4 separate regions of the Homo sapiens genome follow, and all the other regions are linked to region 1. Evidence: fine-mapped expression QTL. A gene starts in region 1. Each other region holds a variant in brackets. All regions are shown on one strand. Distances are between the middles of the regions.

Region 1 (5,000 bases):
CTTGGAGGAGGTTGTAATTTAGGGACTAGGGCCTGAGCCTGAGTGCAGCTGCATCTTTCTCCCAGTCCTGGGGGACACAAGCCATGGGATAAGGCAGGGCACGGCTCTTCTTCAGAAAATGCCTCTGGGCCCTGCTCATCTGGAACTTGTTTTGGTAACTTTAAGCTTAGTAGCTTTTTTTGTTTACTTAGTAATACATTTTCTTTAGAGAGAACACACACACTGGGTTTTCTTTAGAGAGGAACACACTCGCACTGGGGCTGGACATGAGTCACTACAGTGATTACAGGACTGGAAACAAGGACTGAGAAGGGGCAGATGAGTAAGGGTTTTTTAGCCAGAAAAGAAGCACCTCAGCAGGGTGGCCAGGAGAGGTTGTGCAGGATGTTCACTGTACAAGGATACCAGTGGAAGGGTCAAGGGTGGGCTGAGATCCAGAGGAAGGGCTGTGCCTTATCTCAAGCCTGATGCCCTGGTGCTGAGATGTGTCTGTGGGGTGGGGTGGTGGGGAAGGGGTGATTCTTTTTCTTAGTCCAAAGATAAATCTGGGCTCCAACCCCTGTCCTTTGAGGGTGGGACTGTGCAGAAGGAACACCATTTAAAGTTCATATTTTACTGCTGTGAAGTTACTTGCCCAAGATCACATAGCTGAGGAGTGGCAGTGCCAGATCCAGACACTGGTGGTCTGGCCCCAGAGTCCCTGGGCTTAACCACAGCCTGACACTCTCTGTGCGCAGACAAGGCACACGTGGCCTTGTCTGTGGTTCAGTGGGTTGGGTGTCCGGGGTGGGTGGAAAAGAGGGCACTTTCCCCATGCAGAATGGAATCATCCACCTATGTTCTCTGGAGGGCTGCAGGCATTTGTCTTTGGAAATCAAGCCTTCCCTGACCTGGAGGAGAGGGGACATTTTCCTATTGTTAATGATTTGGATCACCAAGGCTCTTACTGATCTGCCATATTGGGCTACAGTGAGATGTATTATCCCCATCACAAGGGCATAGCATTTTACTCATTTTCCACTCATGATGGTAGCCTCTCAGCAAGAGCGTATTATGCATTAGTCTCTGCGTTAAGACTAGGCCTAAATGGAAGATGCTTGTGCTGTCCATCTCATGGGAGGTGCCTTTGCCTCGATACAGGGATATTGAGTTCTTAAAATGTTTTAATGAGTATCCATTAGGTGCTGAGATGCTGAGGTTGAAGGGATGGTCCTGACCCCAGGAAGCTTGGTCAGCAAATGAGAGTAAGGAGTTAGGGAACAATGAAATGCAAACTTCTCTTATCCTAGGGCTTTGAGCCTGTGTGTTTTTTTGTTTGTTTGTTTTTGTTTTTTAGTTTAAATTTCCATTTTTTTTTTTTTGAGATGGAGTTTTTACTCTGTCACCCAGGTTGGAGTGCAGTGGTGTGATCTCGGCTCAATGCAACCTCCACCTCCTGGGTTTAAGCGATTCTCATGCCTCAGCCTCCCAAGTAGCTGGGGTTACAGGCATGTGCCACCACGCCTGGCTGAGTTTTGTATTTTTAGTACAGACAGGGGTTTTGCCACATTGGCCAGTCTGGTCTTGAACTCCTGACCTCAAGTGATCCATCCGCCTCGGCCTCCCAAAATTGAGCCTGTTTTAAATAAAAGCTATATGACCTTTGCCTTAGAGCCTATATTCATTTTTCCCTCAGAGGAGAAGGAAGCTGATTTTTATAAGCACTTACTGTGTGCCACGAGCTTTGTGCAATCCATCTCATTCAACCCTTACCACAGCCTGTAAGGCCGATGTTACTGCTCCCGTTCACAGATGACAACCCCAGGGCTCAGCAAACAGAAGTGACTGACCTCTTGGACTGCGTTCTTGCCACTGCCCCCACTACCCCACTGTACTTTCCTGGCCTTAGAGCCCTCGGGTCCCTCATGGACAGGCCCCCACACTGCCTGGGAAACTCAGAACAGCTGGAGGGGTTTCTTCTCTGAGGATTCTGGTGTCGGGAGATGGAAGCCCAGGAACAGTGGACAGATGGATGAGACATTCTCCTTCTCACGCACTTATCCTACACACTGGTCACTCTCAAAAGCACACCCCTAGTCACACTCGGGCTCACACTCTCTTGCACACATCGATTTTTTCACGTGCACTTGCACTGCCCTCTGGACTTCTGCAGTCTCCTTCATGAAGCGGGGATGGGTGGAGCAGGGGCTGCCGGCATTGATGGAAATTGATGATATTTGAACATCTGTGTGGCAACTCACTCTCCAGCTGTCCCCGCCTCCCCCAACCCCACCCCTAAACACACATGCACTGGGGCTGACAGCTATTTCCTCTCTCAGCCTCCCTCTCCCACCTCTGTCTGCCCGCTGCCTCTTGTCTAGCTGCTGTCAGGAGCTGACTGCCTCCAGGGCTGGAATCCTGTGCTCCCTCTGTGCCCAGGTAAGGAGGAGTGGCCCAGGGGTTGGGCAGCCTAGTGCCCTCTCTAGACCCACAGAAGAAGGCAAAGTTTTACCAGGTGAGAGGGCTGTTACCAGCTAGGATGGCAGAAGATTGAGTTTACCAAAGACTGGAGGGGACTTGGTGCTCAGAGGAGGGAAGGATTAGCTTCTCTTAGGCATTAACTAGATGTCAGATACGAGGGGAAACCACTCAACTGTCTGTCAATATTCACAAGCAGTCTGGGTGGGAAGATGACACCAGCACGCTTAGAGTAACTGGCCCAAGGTCACGCAGCCAGGAAGCTGAGGAGCTGGGATTCAAACCCAGGTCTTGGACTCCCACAGCTTGCACTCTCTGTCCCTTTTTTTTTTTTTTTTTCTTAACCTGCCAAAGCCGGACCTTAGCTGCTTGGCTCCTGAGAATCCTGGGAGGCTGGGGGCTGTCTCTATAGAGTTAGAAGGACTGATCTGGTGGTGCCCAAGGGTGTGGCAGGACTGTGCTCTCTGATCATCCCCATAGGACTTGGATCAGCAGCAGCTGGTCTGCAGGGAATGTTTCAGGGCAGACAGCGGGTGGTACTTGGCTATCTGCTGGGAGTGAAGTCCCAGCCCCACTGTTGCAGCTGAGGAACGCTGGGCAAGTTGTTGTTTCTTCTTCTGAAAAATGGGGTGTCATAGGTTCATTGCAAGAGTAACTGCTCTGCACATTCTAAAGCCTAGGAAGTATGACCATTCTCAGGAAGCACAGGCTCCTCTTCCATCTACCTGCAGGTCTCTAGCTCCAAGGGGCTCCTCCGCCAGCAGAATTCTAGTTTGATATTCCAGAACCCCACTCTACAAAGGACTGTGGTCTCTGGAAGGGAGTGGGTTTTCTCATCCTGGCCAACAGTGTTTTCCCTAGAAAGATGAGTACTGAAGACCATTGCTCCCCTCTCCCGCTTTTCTTCCTCCTCCTCCATCCTCTCTTCCTTGGAGTAGGGGTAGAGGAAAGAGCACAGGCTGAGCATGAAACTTTCTCCTCCACATGTTTGTGCTGTCTGGGTGGCTCTGGGCCAGTTATTTAACCACTTGAGGCTCAGTTTTCTCATCTGTAAAATAGGATGGAGTACTAGCACCATTTTTCTAGAGCCAGAAAGACAGCACCTATGTGAAGGACCTACCATAGTACCTGGAGTGTCATTGGTGCCCAGGACACCCTGAGTCCCTGTCCCCTGCTACTTGCCTCCTACCTCCTGCATGGAGCCTCATGGAATTTCCTCAGCCCTCACTGGTCTTGACCAGCCTCACATCAGATGGTCTTTCGGGCTTTCAATGAGGATGTAAGCATGCACGTCTTATTTGTTGGATGAGTGCATGATGGAGTAAGTGAATGAACAGGGGTGGGTTTCCTGGGGCGGAGAGAGCTGCTGTGGCTGCTCCTGAGAAGGGAGAGATCTTTTGGCCCCACTGGGCCTCCAGAGCCCCATGTGGGAGTTCCTCCTCCCCAGCTCTCCTGGCTCTTATCTTATTTCCTCTCCAACCATCAGAGGAGGGGCTGGTTCCACTGTTTATGGTCGGCACATCTAACCAGCCACCACTGAGTGCGGGGAGCTGCATGGAGGATCTGTAGAGAGGCAACATCTGGGGGCGCTGTGGATGCTGTGGGAAGGGGCAGCATCTCCATCGCCCAGGCCAGCAGAATCCTCTTGCCCTAATTGTGGGGCCTCCTTCACCCGCCAGTGCTCTGGGGATGGGAAAAAGGAGTCCTGTGTGGCCTGACCTTGTTCCTTTTTCTCTGTGTGATCTTAGACCATTTGCTCCATAATCATCACAATGACACTGATAAAGTGCTTGCTCTGTGCCAGGCCATGTTCTAAATGCTTTTATGTATTAAACTCACTTAATTCTCCCAATAACTCTATGAGCTAGGTGATGTTATGACTGACATCCAAGTTTCAGAGGCAGAAAAAGGCTCGGGAAGGTTAAATGACTTGCCCAAGCACAGCAATGCTGGGATATTATTCCCCCCACCCCCACCGCCCAATATATTCGTGGGTCACATTGGCATCTCCTGGGCAGGGTCCCACTCCGGGCCTCTCTCTTGGTTCCCCGGTGGCCTCTGCACTTCCAACTTAGGCGCCTCCTTCCCTCCACTGCAGAGCCCCACGATGTCGGCCAACGCCACACTGAAGCCACTCTGCCCCATCCTGGAGCAGATGAGCCGTCTCCAGAGCCACAGCAACACCAGCATCCGCTACATCGACCACGCGGCCGTGCTGCTGCACGGGCTGGCCTCGCTGCTGGGCCTGGTGGAGAATGGAGTCATCCTCTTCGTGGTGGGCTGCCGCATGCGCCAGACCGTGGTCACCACCTGGGTGCTGCACCTGGCGCTGTCCGACCTGTTGGCCTCTGCTTCCCTGCCCTTCTTCACCTACTTCTTGGCCGTGGGCCACTCGTGGGAGCTGGGCACCACCTTCTGCAAACTGCACTCCTCCATCTTCTTTCTCAACATGTTCGCCAGCGGCTTCCTGCTCAGCGCCATCAGCCTGGACCGCTGCCTGCAGGTGGTGCGGCCGGTGTGGGCGCAGAACCACCGCACCGTGG
Region 2 (8,264 bases), 35 kb after region 1:
GTTTGCTGAGATGACCAGGGTGGTTGCTCCTGAAACTAAGAACTGCACAGAGAGGCAGGGAGATTGATGGTCTCAGGGAGCCCAGAGGCACCTGCCTCCTGGAAACCCTAATGCAGGGAAGGTTTGCCATGAGCATTTATGGCTTGGCACAGTGGGCCATGTACCAAGTGTCATGCGCGTCCGTGTGAAGAGAGTCCATCAAACAGGCTTTGTGTGAGCAACAAGGCTGTTTATTTCACCCAGGTGCAGGTGGGCTGAGTCCGAAAAAGGAGTCAGTAAAGGGTGGTGGGATTATCATTAGTTCTTACAGGTTTGGGATAGGCGAACAAAGTACCTTCTTAAGGGTACTTTGAATATTACAAAGTACCTTCTTAAGGGTACTTTGAATATTACAAAGTACCTTCTTAAGGGTACTTTGAATATTACAAAGTACCTTCTTAAGGGTACTTTGAATATTACAAAGTACCTTCTTAAGGGTACTTTGAATATTACAAAGTGGTACTTTGAATATTACAAAGTACCTTCTTAAGGGCAGGGGAGAATATATTGTGTCAGTTAGGGTGGGGCAGGAACAAATCACAATGGTGGAATGTCATCAGTTAAGACTATTTTCACTTCTTTTGTGGATCTTCAGTTGCTTCAGGCCATCTGGATGTATACATGCAGGTCACAGGGAAAATGATGGCTTAGCTTGGGCTCAGAGGCCTGACAACAGGGAGTAATGGGGCTTATGGGAACAGAGAAAGGCATCTAGTCCTCCCCACTGGGCTCTGCATAGGTTGGTGAGATAGGATTTTAGAAGGGGGCCACTAAAGATTCCTAGGTACCTGCCGGGCATGGTGGCTCATGCCTGTAATCCCAGCACATTGGGAGGCCAAGGCAGGCAGATCACCTGAGGTCAGGAGTTTAAGACCAGCCTGGCCAACGTGGCGAAACCCTGTCTCTACTAAAAATACAAAAATTAGCCGGGAATGCCCGAAAGATTCCTAGGTAACTGGTCCAGTACTTTTCAAACTTGACAGAGGACATGAGCGCCTAGGGATCTTGTTAAGCTGCAGACTGACTCAGCCCGTGTACGGTGGGGCTTAAATTCTGCATTTATTTATTTATTTATTTATTTATTTTTATTTTTAATTTTTTTTTTGAGATGGAGTCTCCCTCTTGCTCTGTCGCCAGGCTGGAGTGCAGTGGCGCAATCTCGTCTCACTGCAACCTCTGCCTCCCAGGTTCAAGCGATTCTCCTGCCTCAGCCTCCTAAGTAGCTGAGACTACAGGTCTGTGTCACCATGCCCAGCTAATTTTTATATTTTTAGTAGAGATGGAGTTTCTCCATGTTGGCCAGGATGGTCTTGATCTCTTGACCTCGTGATCCTGCCCGCCTCGGCCTGCCAAAGTGCTGGGATTACAGGCGTGAGTCACCATGCCTGGCCTGCATTTTTTTTTTTAAGAGACAGGGTCTTGCTCTCTGGCCCAGGCTGGAATGCAGTGGCACCATCATAGCTCACTGCAGCCTCCAACTCCTGGGCTCAAGTGAACCTCCTGCCTCAGCCTCCTGAGTAGCTGGGACTACAGGTATGTACCACCATACCCAGCTAGTTTTCCTTTTTAATTTTTTTTTCCTTTTTTATATCTTGTTGCATATCAACATTTTTTATTTTTAGTAGAGACAAGGTCGTGCTATGTTGCTCAGGTGTTCTCAAACTCCTTGCCTCAAGAGATCCTCCCCTCAGCCTCCCAAAGCTCTGGGATTGCAGGCTTGAGCCACTGGAGCTGGCCTGAGACTCTGCATTTCTAACAAGCTCCCAGGTGATGCCAAAGATGCTGGTCTCTGGCCCATGCTTGGAGGTGGGAGGGACTAGTCTCTCATTTTGAAGATGGAGAAACTAAGACTGAGAGAAGGAGGCAACCTGCCTAAGTCACAGGGCTGCTAAGTGATAGATCTGGATCTAGAAATCAAGTCCCAGGGGCTTTTGTTTCATTGTAGTGGCTGAGCGCCTTGACTTGAGTGTTACCCTCGGGGTAAGTCCCCAGGGACACCACCTTTCTCCTTCCTCGGCTGCATATATTGGGGCAGAGGCCCTTTGCCACGACTCCCCCCACCACACGCTGTGAACCAGCTTCAGCTCTTTAGCTGGCCGCCTCAACAGCCCAGTGCCTCCCCTGGGCCATCCAATCCCATGTGGGGTGGGCCTGGAACTTCCCCTCGAGCTCAGAACAGTTCCACCCCCTGCAGCTTCACTCCCACTTCACAGACTCAAACTCCCTCCCAAGGGTGCAGGGAGGATCTGCAGTCCTGGTCTTTGCAGTCCTCTCTGTCTCTGGGCCACCACCAAGTGGGATCTCCAGGGTCCTCAGGAGCACTCCTCCTGCCAGCGGGTACAAGTAAGTGGTGGGGAACTCGGTGGAGCTCGAGGAGGCAGCCAGGATGCGGCCCGCCCCCCAACCTGCCAGCCACCAGTTGCCAGCAGCTGATAATGATCTGCAGGGCCTGGGGGTGGAGGGGGGAGGGCGCAGAGCTAAAGCCTTGGGCTTTCGGGGTTGGGGCTGTGTCTCCCAGGACTTGAGTGGCTGGGCAGGTCTCTGTGCACATGTCTCTGCCGAAAAGGATCTTAGACAAACTCCCCATCCACCTCCTTCCTTGGCAGCCAAGAAAACAGAGGCCTGGAGAGAATAAGAACCTTGCCAACTTCCCCAGCCAGTGAGGGCAGGCGCAGAACCAGGCCTCTTCGTCCCAGGGGCACCGCAGGATTGCAGAACCCTAGAAAGCTTGGGTGAGGGCCATCTCAGGCATCAAGCCCAACACATTGGTTACCTCCAAGGTGCTGGCCCTGAGTGCACCGAGCTTGCTCTGTGCACCAAGTCATTTAGCTCTCACCACACCCATGAATGGAGCAGCACCCTGCTCATGGCATTCTAGGGACGAAGCTGGGGTCTCAGAGTGGGATCGGAGCCTGCCTCTGCCCATGTTCCCTAAGCCTCCATACCGCACATGCAAGCCTGTCCTTCCAGGGCACAGGGTTGACTCAGCCTAGGCTGAAGCCCAGAAGTTTGCGATCATTTGTCTCAAATAGGCTTCTCTGACCTGAGAGCAGCACTTTGACCTCACCCTCAACACTCCACCTCTCTGTCACCCAAGAGGAGTAGCTTCTCCCAGCAGGCTCCGCTCCTCCCATCGTTTCGTGCTCAACGGCAAGGTAAAAGAGACCTCATTTTCAAAACTGGGACCCAGAGCCACACATGCAGAGAACGGAGGAGCTAGGATTCCAGTGCCTGGCTGGGCCCATACTCTCTGCTCAGCTGCCCACATTGACATCAGCGGGAGACAGGCACAGACTTCTGCCCACACGTGCTGGTCTCACCACTGACCAAGACCCAATCAGCTACAATGAGGAGAGCCTTGATGCAGGGGTGCGGCATCAGAAAAGGAAAGCTCCCGGTTCACCCCAGAGTTGCCTTAGAGCGATGGTACCCAGCTCCTGGGGCCTGGCAAGGGGGACATAGGTTTGCTCTCGTATCCTGGATTCAAGCAGTGCTTTCCAGGGCAGTGGCAGCCCCAGCCCTTTGCTGCTAATTTTCAGGGCTGGAGGCCAGGAAGGAAAACCCCAGCAGCTCTGTCTTGCCTCCCTGCTGCTCCACAGTCCCTCCACTGGTATGTACCCTTGGCCCCATAAATTCTACTGACTGCATCACTGTTGGGATTGGCAGTGGCTGCACAGGTCTGTGGAGACTGGGTGATCCACTTACTCCCAAGATGGTTGGCTGTCCCCGGAAAAAGAGCTTCTCTCTGCTGGGGTGGGCATTGCCCAGGGTCTCAGCCTACCAGGATGGCTCCTCTGGGCTCTGCCATGGCACCCCTGAGTTTTCAGAAGGAGGGAGCCTCACTAATTGCTGCTGCCCTGTCAGCTGGCTTCAGAAGGCAGGTGGGCTGTGGGCTGGGCTGCCTCATGTCTCCTGGAGGGAGCTGGAGCCTGGGTCTTGCTTTTGACATTTCAGACACCTGCAGCACACACAACTGGGGTCCCAGGATGAGGAAGAACATTCACAGGCAGATCC[C/T]CATTTCCTGGGTCTCAGTTTTCCCATCTGAAAAGTGAAGCTACGTCACCAGGAGGAGTGATTGGTAAAACATGAATTGTGTGTAATTCTTAGCAGCTAAAAGCAAAGGTCAGGATGTCCACAGAGAGCAACGTGGTGGCTCTTAGACACAGGCTGAGAGGGGGAAAAAAAGAACCAAAATGAGACAAAACAATACCATACACACAAGTTAAATATGTGTACACTAATATCCTGTAACACAACATGCATTAAAACGTGCTGAAGTTGTTACCTGGGGCTGGAAGGCTGTGGGGAATGGAGGTAAAAGGGAGTTAATGAGACAGAGGTAAGGGAAGAAGTTTGGACCTGGTGACAACCACTACAACCTCATGCTTACCAGCATGCATTTATAATGTGGTAAGCCCAATCTCCATTTCACTCTTATGCAAACTGAGGACCAGAGAGGTTAAGTAACTTGCTTGGATGACACGGTTAATAAATAGTGGAGCTGGGATCTAAATCCAAGACAGCTGGCTAGAAAACCTGGGTTTTTTTCCTGCTTTACGATACATCCCCACTTATCTCCCAGGCCATTCCCTTCTAGTCCGCCAGGCTAGTTAATAACACCACCAACTCCACAGCCTACACCTGTCTGTATGGCTTGTTACCACTTACCTGGAGTCTTCACACATGGTCCTGTGCTTAATTACTAAGCCTCCTGTGTGATGAGGCCTGGGAGCAACCCTCCAGTTGGCTCAGGTCAGACAGACTGTAAATAGTCGGGCCTATATTGGAACCCATGGCTTCTGACTCCTGTCCAGTGTTCATCCCACTGCCTCCCTAAGCAAAAGTGAGAGACATTAAAAGAAAAATAAAAAGCAACACAAAAACAAAAAACCGAAAACATGCCTCCAATTCTAAGCAAACCCAGGAACAGAGAGCTGGGAGGTCCCTGGGATCCTAAGGCCTGAAGCTCTTGACCTTCACCTGGTCATGGGGCTCTCTGTCCAGCAGCCTGGACACATCTTCACCTCTCCTGATATCACTCCTTCTCTGCCTCAACCTGTGCTCTCACTGCCCTCCAAACATGCTTCACTGAGGTCATTGCTGAGCCTTTGCACAAGGCGTGTCTATGCCCTGCAACCCATTCCTTTTCCTTCTTTCTCCACCTGGTGTTTCCCAATCTTGCTTGATCATAAGAATCATCTGAGCACTTGCTGAAAATACAGTGACTTGGGCCTCACGTTTGGCCTTCTGAATCAGACTCTCTAGGGCAGGGGCCTGGGAATCTCCACGTTTAACATACCCCAGGTGACCCTTTCGATCAGGCCAGTTTGCAGGATACTGGCCCATCCAAACCCTCCCATCCTTCAGGCCCTGGTGGGTTTCAGTGGTGCCTGTGAGGTCTTCTGGCTGCGTAGCCCTCTGTGTTGATGATACAACCCCACACCCAAGCAGGTTCGTTAACCTCCCTGAGCTTTCATTTGCTCATCTCAAAAAGGGGGCAGAGGAATCCCTATTCCATGGGATCTTGTGAGATTAAATGGGATACTACATGCAAAGTGCCCGTGCAGTTCCCAGCACGTGGAGGTGGCTGCATCCATGTTAGCTTTTTCTTTCCTGCCAGACACAAATCAGCTGCAGAAATAATGGACTAGGGCCCTCTTGAGGCTTAAAACTGTGCTCACCCCTTGGGTCCTATAGACCTGTCTCAAACAGCTTGAGATGAGTCCTCGAGATGAGGCCGTCTGAGATGCCCACCTGTCCTCTGTGGAAATATGGGTACACCTCTCTGAAAAGCCTGTGTGTTTCTTTTGTAAGTGGGTATCTGCTAATCCTGACATCTGTCCAGGGCCATGTCTGAACCTCGGCAGTGGATTGGTGGGGCTGGCATGCTGGGAAGGCACCCCGAGCCTCAGGCTCATGGCTTCATGGAGCCCGTTGCAAAAGCCCTGCTCCTCCTGGCAGGTCAGCCCTGTTGCCACTTTCTCACTACTCCCTTAACTCTTTCTGGATATTTTTGGAGGAGTTATTTTTCTAGACTTCTCTGTCACCTGTTTGGGCCATGACAGTGGGGTAGAGCAACCATCAGGAAAAGCTGGTGGGTGATGCTATTGTGGGGATAGAGACCCCTACAGGTGATAGAGTTGGCAGAAGGAACTGGGAACATTCCTGACCATTCAGCAGGAGTTGGCAGGAGACTGCCAGTAGATGGAGGACTGTCTGGAGAGGGAGGAGACCCGGCTGCTTCTACTAACGGTACTGTGTGACCTTGGCAAGTCCTTTCCTATCTCGGGCCCCCACTTCCTCATCTGTGAAATGGAAGCATTAGACCCGATCATGATCCCCAAAGTCATTTCTGATTCTGACATTCTTAGTTTCATGGTTGGGATCAACTATACATTTCTACTATAATTTTTAAAAATTTAAACAGAAAAATAGCATCCATTGTCCAAACATGTGTGACTTCTGTGTCTAATACTTCTGAGGTCCTGCCTGGGCTCTGCCGATATTACCATATAATCCACATTTTCGGCAAGGCTCGGGGTCTCACTTGAGTTACCCACGGATTGTGCTGCACGACAGCTGCACTGGAATTCCAGTAAGTGTGCTTCCTTATGACAAGCCGTTCGACTTTCTGATCCTCAGCTTCCTCTTCTGTGTAAAGGGGGTGGTATTGTCATGGCCAGTCCACTGTAGGTGCTGGATAAATTCCTGCTGTTTCCTTTCTGCCCATTCAAGTTGGGGAGCAGGAGCCTGAGCCCAGCCCCAGCCATGTGGCTGCTCTTTCCTTAAGGGTCCTCCCCAGACACAAGCCGAGAGGAGGGCAAAGTTAGCAGATTTTTTTTTTTAAGAGATGAGTCTTGTTATGTTGCCCAGGCTGGACTTGAACTCCTAGGCTCAAGGAAGGAATCCTCCCGCCACAGCCTCCTGGGTAACTGGGACTACAGGTGTGCACCACCACGCCCATACAGATGTTTTATTCCAACACATATTAAGTGCCAGGATTACAAAGTTAGAAAAATCCCCACTAGTCTCCCAGTCTAGCAGAATTAACACAAATAACAGAAACTGACCCCATTCAGCTTCAAAAGGAAAAGGTTGGCTAACCAAGGACATAGTCTAAGGAAATTAGTCCCCAAAGATGATTAATCAATGGGATGGAGGATCCAGAAGGGTGTCAGGACACAGCTGAGCACTGCCAGGAGAAACTGCCATGTGAGTGCCACATGTCCAGTGTGAGGACATGGACCAGTGTTTGGGGGGACCTAAAGGTTCTTCATTGATCAAGCTTCACAAAGAATAACAAGTTTTCGGGATCTCCTACCTGTGCCATCCTAGGAATAAAGGCAGGGAGATAAGCCCCAGTCTTTGACCTCCAAGAGAAACAATAACAGGTCTGAGGTTCAAGTCCTGGCTCTGCCACTAACATTCTGTGTGATAGGCCAGTTGCTGCCTTCCCCAGGTCTCAGTTTCTCCATCTGTAAAATGAGAGTGATGGGCTAGAATGACTGGTAGATTGCATCCACCTGTTAGGAGTCATGCTTGTATGATGCTGTGACTGTTCTGGTCTTCTAAGGGAAGGAGTTGGAAAGTTATTTTATTGATTTGAGTCTACTCATGTTTTCAAATAAAAACATCTAAGACTATCAATGTCCCTCAAAGAACTGCTTTAGCTGCATCCCACAGATTTGTATATGTTATATTTTCATTTTCTTTCAGCTTATTCATTTTGTAGATGTGGGAACTTATAGCCAGAGAGGAGAAGTTTCCCTTCCCATTGTACCTCCCCAACATCTCCCCCTCCATCCCCAAGGCCACACACAGTGGGCAAACGGCAGGGCAAAACACTTGACTGGCCGTCTCACTTCTACTCATTTATTTTTTTGGACAATATTTGATGAGAATTCCACTTTTAAAATATAGATTTTGACTATTTGAACAAACTGTTGAAATCAAGCATACTCAAAGGTACATTGTGTTCCAGATTTGACTATTGGAATCCATTAATGTGTTTACTTGGGATTTTTTTTTTTTTTTTTTTGGTTATTCTTTTTTATTTTTTTTTAATTTATTTTTTTATTGATAATTCTTGGGTGTTTCTCACAGAGGGGGATTTGGCAGGGTCATGGGACAATAGTGGAGGGAAGGTCAGCAGATAAACAAGTGAACAAAGGTCTCTGGTTTTCCTAGGCAGAGGACCCTGCGGCCTTCCGCAGTGTTTGTGTCCC
Region 3 (8,264 bases), 21 kb after region 1:
GATTCTGGTCTGTGTGCTGGGAGGAGGTGGGTACCACCTGGCACACACCATCGTGCAGAATGTGCCGAATCAGCAATACCAGTTTATTTATGTAACCTGAGATCTGCTGACTGATGGAAACCAAGCGCTGGCAGATGGATGGAAGATAGGATCAGGTGTTCTCCTCTGAGTCATTGACCTCCCCCCAGCTAAGGGGTGCTACAGTTGAGAGGGTCTGACAGTCCCCAGATGTCAGAGACCTGGGTCCCCATGGCTTTCTGTTCAACACCTAGCCTTGCCTGAAATACTTCAGAGGGTGATCTCAGGTTTTCACCAGAGAGAGGGAGATGTGTTTTAGAGGAGGCCTTTGGGTGGCCCCCAGACACTTGGAGACACTTTGTCAACCTCAGCATCAGGTGGGCTCTGGCCCAGAACCCCCTACTCCCACCTGAGCTCAGTTTGTCATTGTCATTATACATGGTGTGCAGAGGCCCAGAGGAGACTCCTGAAATTTTCAGAAGAGCCTGGTGTGGTGGTGTACTTGCAGAGTGCTTGAAACAATGCCTGGACCAATCATTGCTTGCCCCGGTGTTTCAGGCTGTGTTTCTCCAGAAGCCAACTCTGAGAGAAGGGCAGGGAAAGGGCCCCTGGCGGTCATCAGCAGCATTAACTGAGCACTTACCACGCGCCAGACCTCTTCTGGGTGCTCCTGTGCTCCCCAGAGCTCCGGTTCGGGAGGGTGATTTTCAGCAGGAGCACGGTACTTGATATGTATTTGTTGAATGAATGGATCCTCATTAGGACCTTACAGGGCTGGGGTGATCATCCTCATTGTACTGACCAGGAAATCCCACTCCCAGAGAGGCTGCGCTTCGGGGCCAGGGTGACACAAAAAGGGCGCAGGGTGAGGTCTGGAGCTCAGGGCTTCTTGACTCTAAGCCCTAAACCTCCACCTCCACCAGGCCTAGGACTGGGACATGGGGCTGACTCAGTCTGGGGTGTCATTGGCAACGAGGATGTTGCTGAGCATGGCAGGAGTGAAGGCAGGACCCAGATGGGCAGAGGTGCAACTGGGCCTCAGCTAATCTTCATTGTGCTACAAAGATCCAAGCTGCTCTGTCTTTTGCTCAAAGCTCTCTCAAGTATTTGAAGTCAGTTTTCTTGTAGCTTTTCCAGAATTGTCTTTTATCCAGGTTAAGCATCTCCTGTTCCTCCCATAACATGATAAGTCTTTGGGAAAGACACCAGTTCTCTACAATGCTTCCAGAATGTGGGGCCCAGAGCTCCTTGTGGCACTAAGGTTGACTGCCCCATGGACGGCTGAGTGGATTTGTCACCTCCCTACTCCATGATCTGTATCAGTGTGGTCAAGATCACATTCAAGCCACCCCATGGACATCTGATTGAAACCCTCAGTCTGGTTCCCGTGGCTGTCAGGCTCTCCTGCTCCCTACATCCCCTTGCTCTGATCTTGGACATGAACCGTTGGCTTTTTCGGATAGTGCAGGATTCTTCCTCTGTCCCTGTTGCATTTTGTTTTTACCTCTCTGGGAGCCCAACTCTCCTCTTTCAGTAGTTACCCCCACTTTCTCTTTTGCACGTGTGAAGAGCTGCTTCTAGGTACTTTGAATCAGGTGCCACTGAGAACGTGGAACACTACCAGGGTGATCGTGTGAGTTCTTACCGTGCATGCTTATCTCAGAGGCTCATCTATGCTGCGTGCTTCTAACAGCTCATTATCAGTTTCAGACCCTTGAGAGGAGGTGGGAAGAGACCTCAGGAGAGGGGTCAAGGGATGGGGGAGGATGGAGTGGTACTTGAAATCCCAGCTTGAGACCTCCCAGCTGCCCCTACGGGGCATTGCCAGGGTGCAGAGAAGCTGCCTGGCTGGGAGAGGCCCACTTTGCAAAGCTCTCATGTATCTGCCCCTGCTCAGGGCTGAGGAGAGCAGAGTTTATCTCCTGATCCTCTCACGGTATCTGCAGGTTCTGTTGAAACAGGAAGGGGCCAGACCTGCTACCCCAGGTCACCATGGGGAGGGGGAGGAGGAGACAAGACCTCCTCTCCCTCCTCAGGCCCCTGCCAGCCTCCATAGCATTTCTCCTGCTCCAAGGCAGGCCAAGAAGAGGTGGGGTGGGTTGGGTAATGAACACCTGAACCAGGTAGAAAGTCGTTAACTCAAGAAGGGGGCATGGCACCTCACCCCAGTGTGTCCAACAGTAGTGCTTTTCAAACGTCAGTGTTGGAATCATGGAGGGTATGTTAAAACACAGATTACTGGGCTCTGACCCCCCAAATTAAGATTCATGAATTTGCATTTCTTTCTTTCTTTTTTTTTTTTTTTGAGATGGAGTCTCACTCTGTCGCCCAGGCTGGAGTGCAGTGGTGTGATCTCGGCTCACTGCAACCTCTGCCTCCCGGGTTCAAGCGATTCTCCTGCCTTAGCCTCCCAAGTAGCTGGCACTCCAGGCATGCGCCACCATGCCAGCTAATTTTTGTAATTTTGGTAGAGACGGGGTTTCGCCGTGTTGGCCAGGATGGGTTCAAATTCCTGACCTCAGGTGATCCGCCCGCCTCGGCCTCCCAAAGTGCTGGGATTATAGGCGTGAGCCACCATGCCCAGACTGAATTCACATTTCTGACAAGCTCTCAGGTGATGCTGCTGCTACTGGTCCACAGACCACACTTTAAGGAGCAGTATCTGGTGGGAAGGAACGAGCAATGGAAGAAGAGCTTTCTTTCTTTGCCTTCTGTCTAGGGCAGGGGCTGAGTTCATCATACTATCATTCATTTGTACACCAAGTCTTTTTTGAATGTTTATGACAGGTGTCATGAAGAGGTACAACAGGGAAGAGGGCAATCATGGTCCCTGCCTTAGTGGATCTTACGGCATCTTGGGGGCACAGATAATAAACACCTGAATCTGAAAATTATCCTTTGAGGAAGGCTGAGCAAGAATTAATTCCCCCATTTTACAGGTGAGGAGATGGCATCTCAGAGAGGTTACCTGACTTGCTGAATGTTACCCACATGTTAAGTCACAGGACTTGAACTCAGGACTTCTCAACTCAGAATCTGGCCCCTATTCCCTGGCTATGAGCCATCTCAGCTTCATGGGGCTGCATTTAGATGGGAGAGCTATAGACCCCGTGCATATGTTGCCAGTGGGTGAAAGCTGCGGGCTTCATCCCTGTGTATGGAAGAAGAGCTTAGACAGACAGATGGGTAGGCACACATTTTTACATCCCATACATATGGACTCTCAGTTCCTAAGACCTGAAAAATCACAGTTTCATAGTGAGTCACTTCCCCTCCCTTCCTCTCTGTTCACTTATCCCTATTCTCTCATTTCCTCTAATATTTGGCTTCCTCTCTATTCACTTCTCCCTATTCTCTCATTTCCTCTAAAGCTCTAAGCCTTGCACAGTGCGAGATCTGCCTAAGTGATGGTCATCCCTTCCAATCAATATGGTGGCTTCATCTCAATGGCAACCCCTGGAAACCCTGCCTTGGTGACCAAGGAGGAGCATACCAGGAGCAAATTATGAGCAAATTATGAGATCAGCTTGGTTCCTGGTTTCTTGATTCCTTGCTTCCTGTTGACCACGTGATAGGGAAAATCTCTGCTTTCTCTACTGCTGAGTTTCTCTGACACTCTAGTGGTGATCAAAACCGGCCCCAAATCTGATTCAGCAGGCTCATACAATGCCAGGTTGGTGAGATGAGCCCTCCCCTGAATCAACAGTCTCCCTTCTCTGTTCTCATGGAGCAAACAGAACGTGAGCCCCCCAAGGACGGAGCAACTCCTGGACCCCACTGGATCAACAAGGCTCATTCTTCTGGATCTCCGATGCCATGGTGCATTCTTTCAAAGGGCAGTTATAGAAACAAGCAGATCATTTCCCCAAAAAGGCCCATTCCTGTGTTTACCAATTGAAAAGTATGTCACTTAGGGTAAGCTTTCAGGACATAAGAATGGTCAGCAGTCTTGATGAGAACACATTTTATTGCAGTTAATTAAACATCATAAAAATGGATCAGTTTCACTGGCAGTTTAAATGAGTGAGATTCTTTCCAGAGTAGCTACGAAGGCTTTGGCAGATATTACCCCATTTAATTCTCACAGTAACCCCATGAGGAAGTTAATAT[C/T]GCTGCCCTATTTTTCAGAGGTGGAGAAACTTGCCCAGGGACAGGCAGCTGGTAAGTGGCACAGTGAGGGTTTAAATCTAGCACTCTGCTTCCAAAGTGTGTACAGTTTCACTCACACCGCTTTGTCTCTGTGTCTTAGGCACTTGACTAAATCAAGAATGAGTCTCCTCTCTAGCCCAGGCCTAATTTTTCTATTCTTTGAAAATAAGCCAGAAATTTCAGATCATTATGAATACCTTCTATACAGGGCAGGGGCTGATCAATTGAAGTGTTATTCTGCTGCTTTTTTTGTTCTCTGCTCCAAACCAAAGATTATACAACACTCAGATATTATCTTTTGCTTGAGTGGTTTTTGCTCTCTGCTTTCAAGATGACTCTGGGTAGATCGAGATATCCCACTTGTTTGGAAATTAGACACAGGTGGTGTAGGACATTGCGTTTTCCCAAGTTGGCCTCAAAAGTATCTCCTACCCGTATGTTTTTCTTACCATGTGACCTAGATGCCCCCTTCCCTCCAGTAGTGGGGTCTACAACCCCCCTGCACTTCAAACCTGCATGGATCTTTGTAATTGCCCTAGCCAAGTATGGCAGGCTGTTGCCATGTGACTTCTTCACGTTATTTTCAGAGACAGAGTCTTACTCTGTTGCCCAGCCTGGTGTGAACATAGCTCACTGTAGCCTCAAAATCCTGGGCTCAAGCGATCCTCCTGCCTTAGCCTCCTGAGTAACTGGGACTACAGGTGGACACTGCTACACTTGGATAATTATTATTATTATTATTATTTTGCAGAGGTCCTGCTATGGTCCTGCTATGTTACCCAAGGTGGTCTTGAACTCCTGGCCTCAAGCCATCCTCCTGCCTCGGCCTCCCAAAGTGCCAAGATTATAGGCATGAGCCACTGCACACCCAGCCTGCCGTGTGACATCTGAGGCTAGATTATAAGAATGCTATGAGCTTCCACCTGGCTTTCATGGACAGGATGCTAACTCTTGGAACTCACCTGCCATGTCGTGAGGAAGTCCAAATCATCCCACATGGAGAGGCCTGTGAAGGTGCTCTAGCTCACAGCCCAGCTGAGGTCCTGGCTGACAGCCTGCATCATCTGCCAGGTATGAGTGAAGATGCTTCCAGATGATTCTAGCTCCCACTCTCAACTTGGATTCTTCCCAGCAGAGGCTCCAGAAATCATAGAGCAGAGATCGCCTCTCCCTACTCTGCTTTGTCCAAGTTCTGGGCTATAAAATCTATGAGCATGGTAGCATGATTGTTTTACACCAGAAAGTTTTGGGGTAGTTTGTGACATAGCAACTGGTACAGAAATTATTTGCTAACAAGCAGGCATCTCTCTCAAGGGGGAAAGTCTTCTGGTTATCTTTGCACCCTTTTCTGGGGCAAATATGATTGGTAGGGATGATGCCCATCATAGCACCATTGCTTCATCAGAGGCCGTTTGGATCAATGAGCCCTTCCGTGTTCTTTAGTCACAATATGTTAATATATCTTACTTGTCCATTTCCCACTGACTAGAATATCAGTTCCCTATGATAAGTTTTTTCCCCTATTTTGTTTGTTCCTATATCCCCCAAACCCAAACTAGTACAGGTGCTCCTCACCTTATGATGGGGTTACCTCCCAATAAACCCGCCATAAAGTTGAAAAATCCTAAGTTGAACCATCTTAAGTTGAGGACCATCTGTGCTTGGTAGTTGCTCAATAAATAATTGTTGCAATAAAAAATTGTCGGATGAATGGTTATGAAACAAACATCTAGTGGGCAAAAGTTTTGATACTGATTTCTGGAGAGAATTTTGCTAACATTACCATGTTCTAGTTGTTATGATAATGTAAAATTACTTTCTGGATAAGGACAAGTTCACATTGTGGTGGTAATTTCTGGAGAATAATTGTTAAACGTTCCCACTTTTTCTTGAAATAACACAAAAGAATCATTAGGAAAGGTATAATGAGTGTTAGGGACACGTCAGGTCCATACTCAGGAGCTTGTTCAAGGAATTGGTACCTGGACACTCTCTAAAAGGATTTGATATCAGTCAACAAGGAAGAAGTGATTCGAGTAAACCTTCCTTTGTTGCCTGGCATATGCTGGGTATCATAGGGACCACAAAAAATGTAAGATGTAGATGCTGTCTTCAAACTGTGTTGAGTCTAGCTGGGGAGACATAAGATTGGAATCTATATACAGATAGCCCAGTAAGGCAAGCTAGGTCCAGTGGTGAAACTGATAGGGTTTCACCAGCTGAGGTCCCCAAGGGTGAGAGAATGTCAAAGAAGACTTCCTGGAGGAGGCAAGTTAAAGGGGATTATGGGTTGGGCAGGTGGACAGCTTCCTGATCCACTAATCAGAGGAACACTGAAACCACAGGGATCCATCAGAAATCTGCTGCCTGTTAACTCAGGTTTCCACCTGCAGCTTCTCACATAGCTGGTGGAAATGAAATTGGTGTCCCTTTTGCCAAAATAGACAATGCCCCTAAGTAGAAAGAAAAGCTACTCCTCCCCAGCACCAGCCTACCTCTGTGGGGGTATTTCTGCAATGTGCATTGCAAGTTGCTGCATCCACTGGCCAGTCTGGCTCTGAGATCAGCCAGCTGGCAGCCTCTGCAGTGGGCATGGCTGGGCAGCCTGAATTCTGAAACCAATTAATGCACTGCAAAGGACGGTTTACCAAGAAGGTATCTGCAAGCCTTAAAAAATATCTCCTAAAAAGTTGTCCACTTGTAGTCCCAGCTACTCGGGAGGCTGAGACTGGAGGATTGCTTGAGGCTATGAGTTTGAGGCTGTGGTGAGCTATGATTGCATCAATGCATACCAGCCTGGGCAACCAAGTGAAACACCGTTGCTGTAACCACAAGCGCCTGAAAACAAGCAATAAATATATCTAGAATAAGACTTGTTATTGCTTCTGCAGTAATTTCTGCTATTTACAAATGAGGGAGAGTGGGTGAGCAATGCTTTCCAGTTATGAGTCAGGGAAGAATCAGGAAAGACAATTCCAAAATCAGTTAGAGTCCTGTTGGTGCGTGTAATACATCTCCACTTTGAACATGAAGAAAGGGGGTTACGATTTGTATTAATGTGAAAATGGCTTCTTGCCATCCTCACTCAGTTGAAATGAGACATATTTGACTATCAATTTGGAAGACTGCCAAATTTTTAGCCTGCCCCAGGCATCCAAGTGTTTCTGATCCGTCCTCTAAGCAGGACTTGTGCCAGGCCACACAATCCTGTTGGTGATATAAGACTAAGAATTCATGTGGAATAACCTCGAAATGCCCCAAAGGCCATGAGTAGCTCCTGGAGTGAGGATAGCTCAGGGTAACCACAACTGGAGGAGCGGGTGTCAACGGAAGCCCAAAGGTACCAGCTTAGTGTCTCTGAACCATGACATTCCTGGCTGTTCCCTCCTTGACCAATTCTGTTCCATTCTGCAGATAAATATCTTTCTGAATGCAGCCTTGAGTGGAGCTGATCCTGCTGGTACCAGTAGCCTCAGCAGGTGCCCGCAAATATCTGAGACTGGTATCTGCCTGGCCAGGGCATTCATGAATTCTTTGCCCAGAGCAGGTGCTCAAGTTCAGTGCTCGATGCTACGCCGCCACCTGGTGGCCGTATGTTGCAAGTCTCTGGAGCTGCCTGCGTGTAGAGAGCCACTCTCCCAGGGTTTACAGGGATATAATTTATCCTCCAAACAGGAACATCTGTTTAGATGCGACACTGGTTGCAAACTAGGTCTATGCCACGGGGACATACGGTGACTGTTTTGGAGTCTCCCAGTTACTGGGATATGCATTCCGCCATAGGCTGTCATGTGACAGAGGTGGGAACCGGGAAGCGCTGCTCTGAATGTTTGTCAGTGGCTCGATAGTCCTCTTGCTCCTCCAGGGCGAGGTGTCTGGGTTGTGTCATTTCCTTCTGAATCAGTGCTATATGATTTGCTAATGTGAGGCCTTGGGCAAGGTATTCAATAAGGCAGCACTTTCAGGTGTCTTCTAGAAGCAGTCTCTATTCTAAGGTAGAGCTTTACATATTACATATATTAACTCATAGAGTCTTCACCACAACTCTATGAGGTGGGAATTAGCATTAGCCCCATTTTACATTTGAGGAAGTGGAG
Region 4 (8,264 bases), 58 kb after region 1:
AAATACAAAAATTAGCCGAGTGTGGTGGCATGCGCCTGTAGTCCCAGCTACTCAGGAGGCTGAGGCAGGAGAATCGCTTGGACATGGGAGGCGGAGGTTGCAGTGAGCAGAGATCGTGCCATTGCACTCTAGCCTGGGCGACACAGTGAGACTCCATCTCAAAAGAGAAAAAAAATTGAAAAAAAAAAGTCAAAATACAGACTAAAATTTAACCACAGTATTAACAATAGTCAAAGATTGCTTTCTGTTTCTAGCCTGGTGTTAGAAATTCTGCATACTGTGTAGAAGATACCAGCCATTCTAGCAGGTCGCGGTATTGATGAGCCACTCAGGGACTGGGCTGTGGCCATGCTCCGCCGAGACCAGCTAACCCTGCCCGGGCTTCCACCACGCACCTGCGGAGGCAGTGCCCTTTCAAAGGGAACATTGACAAGTCTTCCACTGACTGATTTTTGAAAAATAGAAGTCGAACCAGAAGCCGTTTCAACCTTTATTGATGTAAACCATCAATGTAGCACAATTGCTTGTTTTACAAATGGAGAAACTGGGACCTAGTGAGGGGAAGGGACTGAGTCAAACCCGCACAGTAAGTGATTGGCAGAGCTAGCCTAGAGTTTGCACCCATGTCTTTAGACAACCAAGCTAAGGTTTTCTCCATCACCCCCTTTCATGTTTTGAAAGATTGGGTTTCAGCCAGGGGTGGTGGCTCATGCCTGTAATCCTAGCACTTTGGGAGGCCAAGGTGGGTGGATTATGAGGTCAGAAGTTTGAGACCATCATGGCTAACGTGGTGAAACCCTGTCTCTACTAAAAATACAAAAAGTAGCCAGGCGTGGTGGCGGTCGCCTGTAATCCCAGCTACTCGGGAGGCTGAGGCAGGAGAATTGCTTGAACTCGGGAGGCAGAGGTTGCAGTGAGCCGAGATTGCACCACAGCACTCCAGCCTGGGTGACAGAGTGAGACTCCGTCTCAAAAAAAAAAAAAAAAAAAAAAAAAAAGAAAGACTGGGTTGTCCTAAACATTTGCATGGCTCTCTCTGCCGCTGTCTCAGAACCTAATGCCTTACACTTTACAATCTATTTTAAAGCCAGCTGCAATCTATAGAAGGTTAGAAGCAGCAGATCAGAAGTGGAGAAGAGAGGTGCTATGGCCAAGCTAGTGACCACAGCCAGAAGTGGCAGCGAAAGAGATGACAAAGAGGGAGAATTCAAAGAACCTCAAACCCCAGGGATATTCTGTGCAAGGGCAAATGATACTGAGAGCATCCCTTCACACAGGGATTTTATAAGGCAGTAGAGAGCAGACTGCTATCTCGGACAACTTCAAAACCTGGGCTGGGCACAGTGGCTCACGCCTGTAATCCCAGCACTTTGGGAGGCTGAGGCAGGTGGATCACCTGAGGTCAGGAGTTTGAGACCAGGCTGACCAATATGGTGCAATCCTGTCTCTACTAAAAATATAAAAATTAGCTGGGCGTGGTGGCGTGTGCCTATAGTCCCAGCTACTTGGGAGGCTGAGATAGGAGAATCACTTGAACCAGGGAGGCGGAGATTGCAGTGAGCTGAGATAGTGCCACTGTACTCTGGGCTGGGCAACAGAGCGAGACTCCATCTCAACAAAACAAAAGAAAACAAAACAAAGCGAAACAAAACAAAACAATCTGGGCCACCACAGATATCGAGCCATCAACTATGTAAGAAATGGCTTATCTGAGAGGACAGCGTTCCCAGGAGCTGTGAGGGCTGACTTTGCTGTATAGACCATCGCTCTAGCCTTTTGTATGTGCAAATCTCATCTTCCCAGTGAAAGTGCAACTTTGGGAGAGCAGGGGCTATGCTCCAACCAAGTTTGGGCATTGTCAGGCAGTGGCTCTTCAGTTTGCAGTCTGGGTCCAGATCGCAGCTCCGTCAGTGACTATCCATGTGTCCGGGGCAACTTGCTTAACTTCTCTGAGCCTGCATGAAATGGAGATATTAATAGCAACAGCAGCTAGGTCACAGATCGATGGGAGGATTAAATGACATTGAGATTAAATAGCATTTACTTGGCTCAGAGTCAGTGGCCCAGTAAAGATTCAAAGAGTGAGCTCTGCAAATACCTGGGGGAAGAGAATCCAGGTGGAGGAAGGGCAAGGGTGATGGCTCAGAGGCAGGGGTGTCCCTGGGGTGTCTGTGGAACCTCAAGGAAGCCATGGTGGCTGGGGCAGAGCTAGCAAGAGGAAGGGAAGCAGTGGGTGAGACCACGGGGTTGGAGGGGAAAATTGCGTTTTATTTCACATGTTTGTTATTTTTGGGGTTTGCTTCTGTTTATGGAAAGATACTGATTTCCTATATCTTGCTGCTACAAAGTGCCCCTTTAAAATAATATAGAAAAAAGAATCAGTGTGGAAAAAAAACCAGAATACATTGCAGCTCACAAATAAGCAAAAGTCCTGAAGACTATTCCTCAGATGACTGAAATTAGGAAAATGAGGAAGGCAGGTCCCTCTCCCTCACATTATTTACTTAGCACAAGTAGGTTTGAAATTCCGAGGCTGAAGTTTTACTGGCAACCTCGATGTCACAACTGTGAACCTTGAATTCTCCTGATCTCAGAGCTTTCAAGCTGGGAGACTCCTGGATCATGTCATCCTTGCACCTCCACTTTACAGATGGAGACACTGAGGTCCAGGAGGGCAAAAAGATTCATGCAGAGGGTCTAGTTCAGAGGGAAGAACTGTACACAGTTTCTATGGGACTCAACTCCCCAGCTGCCCTCAGCCCAAATCCAGGGATTCAGACACACAGGCTCCCTCAGAGATGTCTTAGTAGGTTGAGGCAAGGGAAGCCCCTGCCTGTGCCGCTCTGGAGACCTTCCTTCCTGGCTGCCCTTATATCCCCCTGTGCATCCACCATTGATCAGAGAAGGCAGGCAAGGGAGGCCAGAGGGCATGGGGGGCACCAGGGGGCTGCAGGCCCAGGGGTTTGCTCTGGAGGCTGGCAGGGAAGGCGATGGGTCCTGGTTGCGCCCAGGTTCAGCTGAGGTAGTTCTGGTCAACCAAGTCAGGTGCTGAGATGTTCCTGGGGGGCCCTGGGAGTTCCTCTAGTGCCTGAGGGGATAGGACCATTGCTGCCTTGGCTACCACTCCCAGGCCAGGCAGTTCTAGCTGCAGCACTGTTAGCCCCTTGCCCCTTACAGCTCCCCTGGGAACTGGTTTCTATCTATGCCAGGGAGAAGGGGCCAAGCGTGGGTTCTGAAGGTCTGGGGAGCCAGGGCCAAACCTCTTCACCTCTGATGTTGCTTGTGTTGTGCGTCGCCTTGAATCACACTCTGGTAGGATGGCGGGGGCTCCACCGGCAGGCCTTTGAGATGCAATGGTGTATTCGGAACAAGGCATGCATCATCATTCTGCGAAAGAAAAGTCGCCGCCCCTGCTGCTCACAGCTGTGGAGCGACTGGCTGCTTCCGAAACACTTCTCTGCTAGTTCACTTCTGAAGACTCAAGTTCTCCATGAATGTGGGGAAACTGAGGCTTGAGAGACGAAGCGACTTCCATAGACCAGTGTGTGACTCCCTCCACCCTCCCTGTTCTTGAAAAGGGAGTAGGGGGAGGCCCACATGGGAGTCACTGGATGGGGCTCTGGTTCCCGTCCCGCTACCAGTGTCCTGGTGACCAGGTGCAAGTCACTCACCCTGTTGGGTTTCCTGAGGGGGGCTGGGCCATGACCCAAGTCCCTTCTAGCCAGGATACACTCTAGGGGCAGGTCTAATGCCAACAGTGTCTGCCAATGATTGCTGCCACACCTCCATCCCTGATTAGTGATGAGGGTGGCACCAACTCAGTGCTGGAGAGCCTGTCCCTGGCACCATCCTTACCGATGGGGAGGGCACAGGGCCCATTGGGGAACCTGGCATGGCCACTTACTGGCTGTGAGACCATGGGAAGTCACGTAACTCTTCTAAGGTTCATTTTTTCCTCTTTAAAATGGAAAAGCAGAACCTGCGTCCCAGAATGGCCGTGAGATTCAAGGACATCTTAGCTAGTGCAGTAGGGAGAAGCACGGCCCCCAGAAGACACCCATGTTCTAATCTCTGGTCACACGGCAGAGAGGAATTAAGGTTGCAGATGGAATTAAGGTTTCCAATCAGCTTTGAGATTGGGAGATTCTCCTGGATTATCTCTCTGGGCCCAGTATGATGATAAGGGTCCTTAAAGGTAGAAGAGGGAGACAGGGTTATTGGAGGATGTTGTGATGCTGGCTTTGAAGGTGGAAGAAGGAGCCACAAGCCAAGGAATGCAGGCAGCCTCTAGAAGCTGGAAAAGGCAAGGAAAGAGATTCTTTTTGATGCCCCCGGAAGGGATGCAGTCCTGGCGACACACCTTGATTTGAGCCCTTGAGACTCATTTCAAACCGCTGACCTCCAGAGCTGTAGG[G/A]TAATACAGGTGTCATTTTAAGCCACCAAATTTGTGATAATTTACTACAACATCAATAGAAAATGAATACAGCCACCTGCAGCACTAGCACAGTGCCTGGAACACAGCAAAGGTCAATAAATAGGAACAATTATTGCTCATAGCTGCAGCTAGGTATGGGGCCCCAGTTTTCCCCATCCTTAAAAGTGGGGTTGGCCTCAGTGACTCAAGACCCCCATCTGGCTTTCTGATGTCTTAATGAGAAGACTTCCTGTCAGGCAGCTAGGAATTAACAAAGACACCTTCTCTGCTTGATGTTAAATGAAACTCAGAGGCCATCAACTTATATATGCATTATGTGAACACTTGGTGTGTGATGAGGTCACTAACATGAAAATCAGTGTCAAACTTGAAGAATTATGGGGGATTTGGCACTTTTTTAAATAATGTTCTAAAGTTGAGATTGTAATATGATTTTTTTTTCTTTAAAGAAATGAGCCTTAGAGATCACTTCTGGTCAGGGTCTTTATTTTTTATTTATTTTTTTTCTTTTATAAAACATCCTTATCCTGAACTGTTCAGGATCTTTGGGGTGAGCAGAGACTTGCCTTCTATTTTAAAATATATCTAGCCCTATGCCATCCCCATGGGTAGACAAGGGCAAGACTGTGGGTTGGACATAGCTCAGGCTGAGTCCTGGATTTCCTAATTGGCTGCTTCGCCTTGAGAAGTGATGTGACCTCTCTGGACCTCAGCTTGCTAGTCTGTAGTATGAGAATGTAAGTACCTCAAAGGGTTGTTGAGGGCTGGGCATGATGGCTGATGCCTGTAATCCCAGCACTTTGGGAGGCCATGGGTGGTGGATCACTTGAGGTCAGGAGTTTGAGACCAGCCTGGCCAGGATGGCAAAACCTCATCTATACTTAAAAAAATACAAAAATTAGCCAGGTATGGTGGCACATGCCTGTAGTCCCAGCTACTTGGGAGGCTGAGGTAGGAGAATTGCTTGAACCCGGGAGGCGGAGGTTGCAGTGGGCCGAGATCGTGCCACTGTACTCCAGCCTGGGTGACAGAGTGAGACTCAGTCTCAAAAGAAAAAGGGTTATTGAGAAGATAAAGTTAAATACAGCTATATTTATCTGTATATCTGCACGTCTATATCCATCCATACATCATCCATCCATCCATCCATCAATGGATGCATCGATTGATGCTTAATAGAGTCCCTGCAATTCCTTAAATGCCCAATCTTTGATGACTCTGTCACTTGTTTCCACTACAGCCAAACTCCACACACACCATAGCTTCCCCAGGCCTTCTCTGTCCTGTCTCCAAGCCAGTGCTCGTGCTCTTCTTGCTCTGCTGAAAGTCTCTCTTCCACCTATGCCTGTGGGTCCGAATCCTGCCCGGTCATCATGGGCCTCTGTGATGCAATTTCCCCAGGGCCTTCAGAGCTGGCAGCACAGTAGCCTCTTGTTCTGGGCACCCATGGAGTTTCCTCTCTGGCAGCCTCACCCTTTTCTCCTTGGATTGGCCTCCTCTCTTGCCCCCGTGCCTTGGCTCCCCTACTGGATCGTGGGCTGTCACTTAGTGAACGCTCAGCAACGTGAGGAATGAATGAAACACGCTCCTCTTGTAACCCCCACATATCTTTCCTTTCTGAGCTCTCTGCTGCCTCATGCCCCCATTTTTTGTCTTCCTGGGAAGACAAGCCCTTGTCTTACCTTTGCAGATGGGCAGTCCCCTCTCCAGGCTGTGACAGCTGTGGGCACTGGCAGGAAGAGCTCTAGGACAGTGAAGCAGAGCAAGGCCAGCTCCAGCCTCTGGATGTGGACCTGAGAGGGTAGAGGGAAGGAAGGCAGGGTGAGGCCTCGCTGGGTGTCTGCACGCATCACGTGGGCTTAGCCAGGCAGGGGTCCTTGCTAAGATCCACAGCAGAGGGCAGGTGGGGTTTCAGCTCCCAGGTGTGCGTGGGGAAGGCAGGGTGGGTCTCTGTGGGACGGGGACTTGGTCTGTCTTGGTCACTGCCCTACACTCAATGCCTGGCACATATGGGTCTTTGGTGAGTATTGGCCTAACGTTTGAGGGCTGGAGAATCTCATGGGTCCCTGGTAAGAATGAAGGTAGCCTTAGGGTCATCTGATCCAAGCCTATTTGACAGATGGGGGTACCTAGTCCCAGAGTGAGGGAGCATGTTTTACAGCAGAGGAGGGGAAGAGCCGTGCAGCTGGGAGTCATCTCATAGTATCACATGCATTTGATGGGGAAGCATATGTATATGTGTGTGTGTGCACGCACATGTGTGTCCATGCATGCTCGCACATGCATGTGATGTGCATGTGTATGCACGTGTGTGTATGTGCTGGGAGGAGATAAGGAATAACAAACCACTATGGTCAGAACCCTTGTGGGCATGGTGGCTCACGCCTGTAATCCCAGCACTTTGGGAGGCTGAGGCGGGAGGATCACTAGAGGTCAGGAGTTCGAGACCTGCCTGGCCGACATGGTGAAACCCCATCTCTACTAAAAATACAAAAATTAGCCTGGCGTGGTGGTGGCTGTGGTGGGTGCCTGTAATCCTAGCTACTCGAGAGGCTGAGGCAGGAGAATTGCTTGAATCTGGGAGGCGGAGGTTACAGTGAGCCTCGATTGTGCCACTGCACTCCAGCCTGGGTGACAAGAGTGAGACTCCGTTCCCCCGCCCCTTCCAAAAAAAAAGAAAAAAGAATTCTTGGAGCCTGGCCCAGAGGCACCCAGTGGTCTGCCTTCTGCTTCAGAGGCAGCAGTGATATGGTGAAAAGAGCACCAGGCTTGGAGTCAAAGACCCACTAATCTAGCCTCTCTGGACCTCCGTGTTCACTCCCAGAAGATGAGGGTAACAAAGTGGACTTGGCCAGCTTTGCAAGGCTGATGGGAGGCTCCCGGATCACAGGGGCCACCAGGCACACCATGCTTAGAGCCCTGGCTGGGAAATCAGCAGTTTTAGGCTGTGGTCCTGGATTTGCCGTCAAGTTGCTGCTTGACCTCAGGCAGGCTCCTCCCCGTCTCTGGCCCCATTTCCCAATCTATAAAAGTGGACTTGGATTCAGTGATGCTGACCAGTCAGCAGCCCAGCACCCACCTTTCCACCACACCTTGTAGGGGACAGAAACAGGTTGGCAAAGGGCCCAGCAGCCCACACCTGGGCTCCAGGAGGGGCTTTCTGTGAGCTGGAAACCTCCTGTTGGCCAAATCCAAGGCAGCACCTTCGCTGAAGTCAGAGGGCCCTCCAGGCCTGGGTACTCACCGTGGAGTTGGGGTACATTCTCCAGATCGGGGACTCAAATGGGCTCTCCAGAAAGAGATCCTTGGAGATGACGAAGAGGCCAGACAGCACGCAAAAGAGGCTGATGAGGTTTGTCATCAGGCACAACATCTTCTATAGGTGAAAAATAAAGGTAACAGCTGTCCAAAGGGTGGAGACCTGGGGCTAGGTCCTCCCCTCATGCTTGCCAGTAGCTTCCTCTGTAGCCTCAGGAGAGACTCTGCCTGTCACTGGGCCCAAGGCCCCCTCTGCCTGTCACTGGCCCCTCAGCCCCTCACACAGGATTGAGCTGAGCTGCTCCTGTGTGACCACTGAGGAGGGTCCAGCTGGCCCTTGCCTTCTATGGGACAAATTGGGAGAACCCAAGAGCTGCCTTCAGATCCAAGAGCTTTGCAATAAAGGATGCCCTATTGCCATTTCCTGCTCAAAGCCAGCCCCGACCATCCTACATCAGCTATGCCAAGTGTCAGGGATTCGACACCCAGGTGACCCCTCATCCAGCCCCTTCCCCACCAGAAAGGTCAGGAGGAGCTCTGAAAGTGCCCTATCCTCACATGTCCCAGTACC

Direction of the effects. Positions count from the first base shown, and alleles are read on the strand shown. Sizes are in standard deviations (SD) of each study's normalised expression. Not every link is listed here.
With allele A in place of G in region 4, the expression in subcutaneous fat of the gene that starts at base 2,337 in region 1 is higher (moderate effect, 0.41 SD a copy in FUSION).

The links. PIP is the estimated chance that this variant, and not a neighbour inherited with it, causes the effect. A credible set is the group of variants that fine-mapping cannot tell apart.
Region 2: its variant is the best candidate, but not a certain one, in a credible set for the expression of PTGDR2 in whole blood (TOPMed, PIP 0.51).
Region 3: its variant is the best candidate, but not a certain one, in a credible set for the expression of PTGDR2 in monocytes (TOPMed, PIP 0.70).
Region 4: its variant is the best candidate, but not a certain one, in a credible set for the expression of PTGDR2 in subcutaneous fat (FUSION, PIP 0.90).

The regions. Positions count from the first base shown.
Region 1 is chr11:60,853,287-60,858,286 of GRCh38, reverse strand. It overlaps PTGDR2 (prostaglandin D2 receptor 2), which reads left to right and starts at 2,337. Exons shown (of 2, transcript NM_004778.3): 1 at 2,337-2,418; 2 at 4,556-5,000. The coding sequence starts at 4,565.
Region 2 is chr11:60,816,204-60,824,467 of GRCh38, reverse strand. All of the region lies in intron 2 of LOC105369322 (a long non-coding RNA gene), which reads left to right. Among named protein-coding and RNA genes, the nearest start is that of CCDC86, 22 kb to the left of the region's middle. The variant C/T (reference allele first, on the strand shown) is at 4,054.
Region 3 is chr11:60,830,689-60,838,952 of GRCh38, reverse strand. It overlaps LOC105369322 (a long non-coding RNA gene), which reads left to right and starts at 2,814. Exons shown (of 3, transcript XR_950149.3): 1 at 2,814-2,957; 2 at 4,919-5,238. The variant C/T (reference allele first, on the strand shown) is at 4,129.
Region 4 is chr11:60,793,519-60,801,782 of GRCh38, reverse strand. MS4A10 (membrane spanning 4-domains A10) reads right to left here. Exons shown (of 8, transcript NM_206893.4): 5 at 7,680-7,811; 6 at 6,118-6,228; 7 at 3,269-3,387; 8 at 478-1,955. The coding sequence ends at 1,874. The region is part of intron 2 of LOC105369322 (a long non-coding RNA gene); the gene reads left to right. Among named protein-coding and RNA genes, the nearest start is that of MS4A10, 12 kb to the right of the region's middle. The variant G/A (reference allele first, on the strand shown) is at 4,415.